Homo sapiens: one gene and its partner. Changing the gene in region 2 together with the main gene of any one other region gives a genetic interaction. Each region holds a gene or a part of one and is shown on either strand. Other genes may lie near its edges.

Region 1 (3,500 bases), on a different chromosome or scaffold from region 2:
TATTTTACATGTAATTTGGATCTTCATGTTAAATTTAACATCAGTGGAGATGGAAAATAAGCATATCGCCTTGTCTTTGAAATAGCCCTATATTGTTAGATTGTTTCTTAGGCTTCTTTACCCTGGGTTAAGCAGTCCTAATACTTTAGCATTTATTCTACATCTAGTGTACTAATTTAAAAAAATCAGTTCTGAAAAATTTCTAAGAACTTTCTTCAAGTTCCAAGCTGTGAAATCTAGAACAGGTCAAAGTGCCTTATTAACGTACTGTACTGTGTAGTGTCTTGAAGAGACACTTTGCGCTGAGGCAAGTTCTGAGGGCATTGGGTGGCCTTGGGAAGATATTTATGCAGTTTAGAACCTGGAGAATTGATTAGATAACTAATCATAAGGAAACGTCACATATTTTTGGTACTATAAAAAAGTGGAGAAATAATGCCTATTTGCAAAGATTTGATTTAAACATAGAAACAACTTTATTTGGCTTCCAATTTTAAGAATTTACAGCAGTAAAGGGGAACAGTCTAATTGAAGTAGACTGCCTATGCAATAGTCTCTGTATATTTACTTTTGACAAGTTAATTCAATGTGTACTATAGTTTTGTTTCTTTGAAGAGGTTTGAATAGTGCACCCATTTTAATCTGTATTGCAAATTCAGGGTTACTTGGCAGACTCTACTATTTAAATCAGATGTAAAAGGAAGTTTTAATATAATTCACTTTATGCCTGAAAGTTTTCCTGGGATTTTGGAAGGTGATTTTACTGGAAATGCTGTCTGTCTTCCCTGAAAATCTGAGAAATTCCATTACACTTTGTTTCCAATCAGAGGTCATGAGTGCTATATGAGTATATACAGCATGACGTCATGAATGTGATAAAGTGGGTTAGGAAACCTTTTGCTAATGATTGTTAAAATGCAATATAAATGTTGAAGAAATAAAGCTAACAGTTAAGCCTTTATTTGGGCGGAAGGCTGAAAAAGTTTATAAACTTAAACCTATAACTCTGCTTATGATTTCTGCCAAACCAGAAGACTTGACTCTGGGAAGCATTGGTTACCTGTGAACTTTGAAACTGACGGTCCCTGACGTAGTTTAGTCACCTGGGAAAAGGTATCTGAGATTATCTCTTATCTCCCAAGTTACAGTGAGTCTCTGAGGGAACTGACACATTACATTAAGTTCTTGGTGTAGTTAAACTGTAAGAAAGGCAGGAGAACTTAGTAGTTAAATAGTTGGTTAAATGGAAATGCTGACTCCATGTTATTGTAAAAAGTTAAAAATTTAGGAGGATATGGGGATTTCACTGCCATTGCAGGTTTTGATTGGTATTTACCAATCCGTGTGGGTCAGAGAGAAAATTAGAAAGGATATGACTGCACATTTTGGAATTATTAGCAGTTTTTCTACATTTAAAATGGAAATAAATTTTTTAAAAATTTAAATCAAGTAATACTGTATTTTTTGGTGATTTAGATTTTTCAAAATTTACACTAAGAGATAGTAAGGAGGGTGGCTATTGTTTCTTTCAATAATGTCTCTGAGAGGTTGTAACTCATCTAAGGATACGTAGCTAATAAGTGGTAGGATTTCAATTTAAATTCTCTGAGACCAAGTTAAGTAGAATTTGCACTGTACTCTTGTATAACTTTTTAAAACTGAAAATTAGCTATCTTTCAAATTAAGAAAATATTTACTAATGGAGACTAATTCAGATTTGTAAGTATACCAAAATTTGAACTTAGCCTGCTATCTAATGGCAACTTAGTGGCAGAGGTATGATGTAAAATCATTCAGGTATGACACATAGATGGAGTATGTTTGTATTCGAGGCTGTGCACATAATCACCTTTACTTGTATTGTGAAGTATATATTGTTATCTTTTATGAAGCCCACTAAAGAGATAATGAAATACCTCGTTATTAGGGCAAGATTATTGAAAACTCAAAATAGCCCCCAAACACAATACTTGGCTAGAAATATATACCTTTATAGTTCAGAGATCATTTATTATCAAAACCCTGAAGTTTTTTTTCTAAGGTAAAATTTGGTGGAAGAGGAAAAGTCTCGTTTTAAAAAAATGTAGGTAGTTACAGAGATCAGAATGATTAGTTGATCACTTACCAAATATATATTAAGTATCTACTGTATATAATATGCTAGTAAGAATAAATATAGCAGGAAGTATTTTTTCCCAGGCTCTAATTGTTTGACATCAGCATGCTTTTATTGTGGCACTTATAATTCAGTTCAAGTATTATGCCCCTCTTTGATGGAACAGTTTCCTATTCAGTAAGGAAGACCAGATTAATCATTGGATTGGTTTGTTTCATCTTTAGTGTTCTGAGCTGTAGAGTATTTATTTACCAAGGTTTATTTTAATTTTTATTTTATTTTTATTTTTCCATGTTCATTGTAGAATTCATTTTACCTACGAATGAAGTATGTAGATTATAGAGAGAAAATTTGTAAAATTAAACTGATACTGAAGACTGGTATAAGAAAAGCCTTATGTAATTTGTAAGCTGCTATTCTTCTGAGTTTATACATATATCTTTAGTAATCAATGAGGGATGGTTGGGTGACTGCCCTCCAGGGGACATTTGGCAACATCTGGAGATGTTTTTGGTTGCCACAACTTGGGGAGAGAGTACTGCTACTGGCATCTATTGAGTAGATGCTATTACTTTAAATGGCAAAGCTGCAGTTACCTTTGCACCAACCTAATATTAAACTTCCTGCAGTGCACGGGAAAGCCCCCACAACAGGGTTATCTGACCCCAAACCTCAATGGTGTTAAGATCCAAACCTTGATATGTTAACCTGTAGCTTTAAACATCCTTTAAATTGTCAAATTCATGTCCCTGACATAAGGTTTATGTTAGATTTTCAAGTATAACAAAGATTTAAACTTTAACTTTTGTACGTTAATGATATGTTAGCTTACTCCAGTCTTCTATTAAAACATTCTGTTTTTAAAATCAGAGACACACAGCAATTTTATAAATCATTTCTCTTCAAGGCTGTGAAGCTCTCCCCACTTTTGTGAGTGCCCTCTACTGGTCAAATTATTTGCTTTATAACAAGTAACAGTGAAATCCTAAGTTTGTGTAGTTTCGCTGTTTAAATTATGGGTGGCATCAATTTATAAATATATTCGTTTTATTTAAAAGTCTTATATGATTGATTTCGTATCATTTTTGCTCTCTGCTAATATTAATATAAAGATTACTGTCTGTATTAGTTAGGCCTAACTAAGTAGGTGAGTATAGTGAACTAAGAAAGGAAACGAGGCAGTATATAAGAAAATAGGGTGGTTCAGTTGTTAACACTTACTGAGCTTACTTTGTTGAAGGGACTAAAAGGCAGCAGTGTGGCTCTCTGAGCTTCTTTGCATGCACTCAGGAGCTGCTTAATGGAGTCCAAGGCTTGGTGGTGTGTTACAGGGGATGATAGGAGGGTCCTATTCAGAAGTGGCAAATTGTGAAAGTGCACATTT
Region 2 (5,313 bases):
TGGAGGGGGTGCCTCGGTGGCTGGAGGGCAGGGCCTGGTCGCTGAACTGCAGGGCGCCTCCTCTCCCCCCTAGATCGAGGAGGACGCCTACCAGGAGGACCTGGGATTCAGCCTGGGCCACCTGGGCAAGTCGGGCAGTGGGCGTGTGCGGCAGACACAGGTAAACGAGGCCACCAAGGCCAGGATCTCCAAGACGCTGCAGGTATGGGCCAGACCCAGGTGGGGCTGGGGACCGAGGGACACAAGGTGGGGGGAGCCCAGATCGCAGCCTCCCTGTCCTCCCCACAGCGGACCCTGCAGAAGCAGAGCGTCGTATATGGCGGGAAGTCCACCATCCGCGACCGCTCCTCGGGCACGGCCTCCAGCGTGGCCTTCACCCCACTCCAGGTACCTCCCCTGGGCCGGCTCTGTCCCCAGCCCTGAGACCTTGGCAAGGCCCCTTGCCCTCTGCCCCTGTGAAGAAGGCCAGGATGAGTCTCCTCATGGGGCTGTTGTGGAGGGTGTGGTGACGAGGTATGCAGAGGACGTAGACAGCTCCTGGCACACAGGAAGAGGTTAGCAGAGACGAGAGCCCAGCGCTGAGCAGTCCTCGTGAGCACGCACTGCTTTAGAACCAGGCCCACAGCTGTGTTCAGGGCACCCAGTTCCTCTGTCGGGCTGTGAGCGGGTAACACTGCTCAGCCTCCAGGCCCTCCAGTTCAAAACGGCCAGGACGGTTAAGGTAACCTCAGGACCCCACTCGAGAAAGTTCCCGGCTAGGCGGGCTTGGATGTCAAGTGTGGGTCCAGGCCCCAGCCAGTCAGCAGTGAGCAGCGTGGAGCATGGCAGTCACCGCATCGTCGGAGCCTCGGTTTACCATCCACAGAGCAGGGCGAGCCTGCACCACGGAGGCGAGACAGCAGCGAGCTCATCTGCCCAGTCAGCGGGTGTCTACGCAGCACCTGCTGAGTTCTGTCAGTGTTCCCGGCTCTGGGGATGAAGCAACGAATGAGAGACAAGTCTTACCTTCTTGGAGCCAGTGGGTGGCCGGGCGCAGACAGCTCAGTAAGATGTCCAGTGTAGGAGAAGGCAGAAATGCCAGGCCGGGCGCAGACAGCTCAGTAAGATGTCCAGTGTAGGAGAAGGCAGAAATGCCAGGCCGGGCGCAGACAGCTCAGTAAGATGTCCAGTGTAGGAGAAGGCAGAAATGCCAGGCCGGGCGCAGACAGCTCAGTAAGATGTCCAGTGTAGGAGAAGGCAGAAATGCCAGGCTGGGCGCAGACAGCTCAGTAAGATGTCCAGTGTAGGAGAAGGCAGAAATGCCAGGCCGGGCGCAGACAGCTCAGTAAGATGCCCAGTGTAGTAGAAGGCAGAAATGCCAGGCCGGGCGCGGTGGCTCACGCCTGTAATCCCAGCACTTTGGGAGGCCGAGGCAGGTGGATCATGAGGTCAGGAGATCGAGACCATCCTGGCTAACACGGTGAAACCCCGTCTCTACTAAAAATACAAAAACTTAGCCGGGCGTGGTGGCGGGCGCCTGTAGTCCCAGCTACTTGGGAGGCTGAGGCAGGAGAATGGCGTGAACCCGGGAGGCGGAGCTTGCAGTGAGCCGAGATCGCGCCACTGCACTTCAGCCTGGGCGACAGAGCCAGACTCTGTCTCAAAAAAAAAAAAAAGAAGGCAGAAATGCCAGGGAGGGGAGGAGGTGGAAGGTAGGAGGTGGGACAGGGGAGGCTCTCGTTTCGGAGCAGCCAGGGAGGGCCTCTTTGAGAAGATGAGGCCAGTGGCTGTGCCTTTCCAAGCCTCCCCTCCTCCATCATGAGGTGCTCAGGACTGAAAAGAACGCACAGGAAGCACTTGGCACTGGGCTCACCATTAGAGCCCAATGACTGGGTCCTGTTATTATTTTTAGAGACGGGGGCTCGCTCTGTTGCCTTGAAAATATTTAGGAAGTGCCAGCCAGGTGTTGGCTCCCATTGCTGCCACTATGATCGTCAGTGGTGTTGGTGTGATTTGTGCTAGGACCTCGGGCCAGCCATGTCCCCCAGGGACTCAGTTTCCTTATGCAGAAACTGGGCAGGATTGGCTGTCCTCAAGCATTGGTTGTTTTTAGCACCCCTGAGGAACTTCGTACAAATCCAGGCGCCCTGGTTCCTCCCCACCCTCTCCCTCTAGACCCACTGAGTCAGAATCTCCCAAGACAGGGCAACTCCAGGGACAGGCAAACTGTCTCATGCCCACCAAGGCCTGAGTGCCATGGGGAAGGGCCTGGGGGGCTCTGATGGGTCACAGTTGGGGCCTTCTCCTCACCTAACCCATCATCCTCTCTCCCTCACCTGCCCAGGGCCTGGAGATTGTGAACCCACAGGCGGCAGAGAAGAAGGTGGCTGAGGCCAACCAGAAGTATTTCTCCAGCATGGCTGAGTTCCTCAAGGTCAAGGGCGAGAAGAGTGGCCTTATGTCCACCTGAATGACTGCGTGTGTCCAAGGTGGCTTCCCACTGAAGGGACACAGAGGTCCAGTCCTTCTGAAGGGCTAGGATCGGGTTCTGGCAGGGAGAACCTGCCCTGCCACTGGCCCCATTGCTGGGACTGCCCAGGGAGGAGGCCTTGGAAGAGTCCGGCCTGGCCTCCCCCAGGACCGAGATCACCGCCCAGTATGGGCTAGAGCAGGTCTTCATCATGCCTTGTCTTTTTTAACTGAGAAAGGAGATTTTTTGAAAAGAGTACAATTAAAAGGACATTGTCAAGATCTGTCCTTGGGGAGTGATCATTTTTCAAACAGCCGGGGCAACTAGAAGAATCAGAGCTGTGGAGCTTTGAGAAAAGAGCTTGGCCCTCGGGTCCAAGCGGTGTCTAGGCCCACTCCCTTCCCCGTTACTTTCTCGTCATGGGATCCCAGAAGGAAAAAGCCCTCTCCAACCCCCTGGAGAGCCGCAGTCACTTTGATAGCAAATGATGTGGCTGCCAACAGCCGCAGATCTCAGCGCAGGCCGACCGGGATTGCTGTCCACCTCAGGCCAGCCTCCTCACCTTTCCAAGCCTCCACACCTACGCCCAGGTGCCCAGGACTGGAAAGAATGCACAGAAAGCACTTAGCATGGGACTTGCCATCAGCGCCCTATAACCAGGTCCTGTTATGATTGGGTTTTTTAGAGACGGGGTCTCTGTTGCCCAGGTTGGAGTACAGTGATGCGATGAAGCTCACTAAAGCCTCAAACTCCTGGGCTGGGATTACAGGCATGAACCAGCACAGCTGGCCTCCTGGTTAATTTAAATTTTTTTTTTTTTTCTGAGGTGGAGTCTCGCTCTGTTGCCCAGGCTAGAGTACAGTGGTGCAATCTTGGCTCACTGCAACCTCTACCTCCCGGGTTCAAGCAATTCTCCTGCCTCAGCCTCCTGAGTAGCTGGGATTACAGGCATGTGCCACCATGTCCCGCTAATTTTTATAGTTTTTAGTAGAGACAGGGTTTCGCCATGTTGGTCAGGCTGTTCTCGAACTCCTGACCTCATGATATGCCCACCTCAGCCTCCCAAAGTGCCAGGATTACAGGTGTGAGCCACCACCCCAGCCCCATTTTTAAATTGTTTATAGACAGGGTCGTGCTCTATTACCCAGGCTGGGCTTGAACTCCTGTGCTCAAGTGAGCTTTCCACCTCAGCCTCCCTAAGTGTTGAGATTACAGGCTTGAGCCGCTGTGTCTGGCCTCTTATTATTATTATTATTTTTTTTTTTGAGACAGAATCTCACTCTGTTGCCCAGGCTGGAGTGCAGTGGGATGATCCTGGCTCATGGCAACCTCCACCTCCCGGGTCCAGGTGATTCTCCTGCCTCAGTCTCCTGAGTAGCTGGGATTACAGGCGCCCATGGGTTTTGTTTGTTTGTTTGTTTGTTTGTTTGTTTGTTTTTCAGACGGAGTCTTGCTCTGTCACCCAGGCTGGAGTGCAATGACATGGTCTTGGCTCACTGCAAACTCCGCCTCCCAGGTTGAAGTGATTCTCCTGCCTCAGCCTCCCGAATAGCTGGGATTACAGGCGCCCGCCACCACGCCTGGCTAATTTTGTATTTTTAGCAGAGACGGGGTTTCACCATTTGGGCCAGGCTGGTCTTGAATTGCTGACCTTGTGATCTGCCCGCCTCGGCCTCCCAAAGTGCTGGGATTACGGGTGTGACCCACCGCGCCCGGCCGAGATGGGGTTTTACCATGTTGGCCAGGCTGGTCTCGAACTCCTGACCTCAACTAATCCGCCTGCCTCGTCTCCCAAAGTGCTGGGATTACCCTGTGCCTGGCCCAGCCTCTTATTTATAACCAGTGTTGAGGGACTGTGTGGAGCCGGGCACAGGCGAAGCAGGCAGGCTTCCTGCCCTGGTAGGACCTGGTTGCTATAAAAGTCCTGCCAGGTGAGCAGAAGGAGCACACTTCCCCTCCCCTGACCTCCAGTCACTGAGTCTCGGGAACCGGGGCTCGGCCAGGAGCGCCTTTACTTGGACTGAGGGGAATGTGGCCTGCAGACAGTCAGGAGAGTTTCCAGGGGACAGCAGGGGCTGTCCTAGCGGGTGGCATGAAACCGTCTCCCTGGAGAGGTTAAGGAAGAGCAACTCCAGGGGTTCCATTTACTATGTGCTCCGGAGCTGGGCTACACGGTGGTACTAAGGAGGCAGCGCTAGTCACCTGACCTACAAGGTCGGGCTTCTGTTAGTTACCTAAGAGATGTTACCAGGACAAGCAGCAGCCTGGTGGGAAGATGATGCCTCCAGGTCTCTACCTCCTCTCTCTCTCCCTCCTTCTCTCCACCTCCCCTCTCTCTCCCTCCCTCTCTCCACCTCCCCTCTCTCTCTTCCTCCCTCTCCACCTCCCCTCTCTCTCTCCCTCCCTCTCTCCACCTCCCCTCTCTCTCTCCCTCCCTCTCCACCTCCCCTCTCTCCACCTCCCCTCACTCCACCTTCCCTCTCTCCACCTCCCCTCCCTCTCTCCACCTTCCCCTCTCTCCCTCCCTCCCTCTCTCCACCTTCCCTCTCTCCTCCCCTCTCCCCCTCCCTCCCTCTCTCCACCTTCCCTCTCTCCACCTCCCCTCTCCCCCTCCCTCCCTCTCTCCACCTCCCCTCTCCCTCCCTCTCTCTCCTCCCCTCTCCCTCCCTCCACCTCCCCTCCCTCTCTCCACCTCCCCTCCCTCTCTCCCTCCCTCCCTCCCTCTCTCCACCTTCCCTCTCCCTCCCTCCACCTTCCCTCTCCCTCCCTCCACCTTCCCTCTCCCTCCCTCTCCACCTTCCCTCTCTCCTCCCCTCTCCCTCCCTCTCTCCACCTCCCCTCTCTCCCTCCCTCCCTCCCTCTCT

The links. Genes that interact genetically often act in the same process or in processes that back each other up.
Region 1: changes in PRPF31 (region 2) and KRAS are lethal when combined (synthetic lethality), as found in Homo sapiens cells (3 studies listed by BioGRID, with this or other methods).

What each region holds. Positions count from the first base shown.
Region 1 is NC_000012.12:25,240,930-25,244,429, reverse strand, and holds part of KRAS (GTPase KRas), read left to right. Parts: intron 1-3,500. UniProt on the Homo sapiens protein: Ras proteins bind GDP/GTP and possess intrinsic GTPase activity. Plays an important role in the regulation of cell proliferation.
Region 2 is NC_000019.10:54,128,984-54,134,296, forward strand, and holds the end of PRPF31 (U4/U6 small nuclear ribonucleoprotein Prp31), read left to right. Parts: intron 1-73; coding exon 74-202; intron 203-288; coding exon 289-387; intron 388-2,323; coding exon 2,324-2,449; 3' UTR 2,450-2,730; downstream 2,731-5,313. UniProt on the Homo sapiens protein: Involved in pre-mRNA splicing as component of the spliceosome. Required for the assembly of the U4/U5/U6 tri-snRNP complex, one of the building blocks of the spliceosome.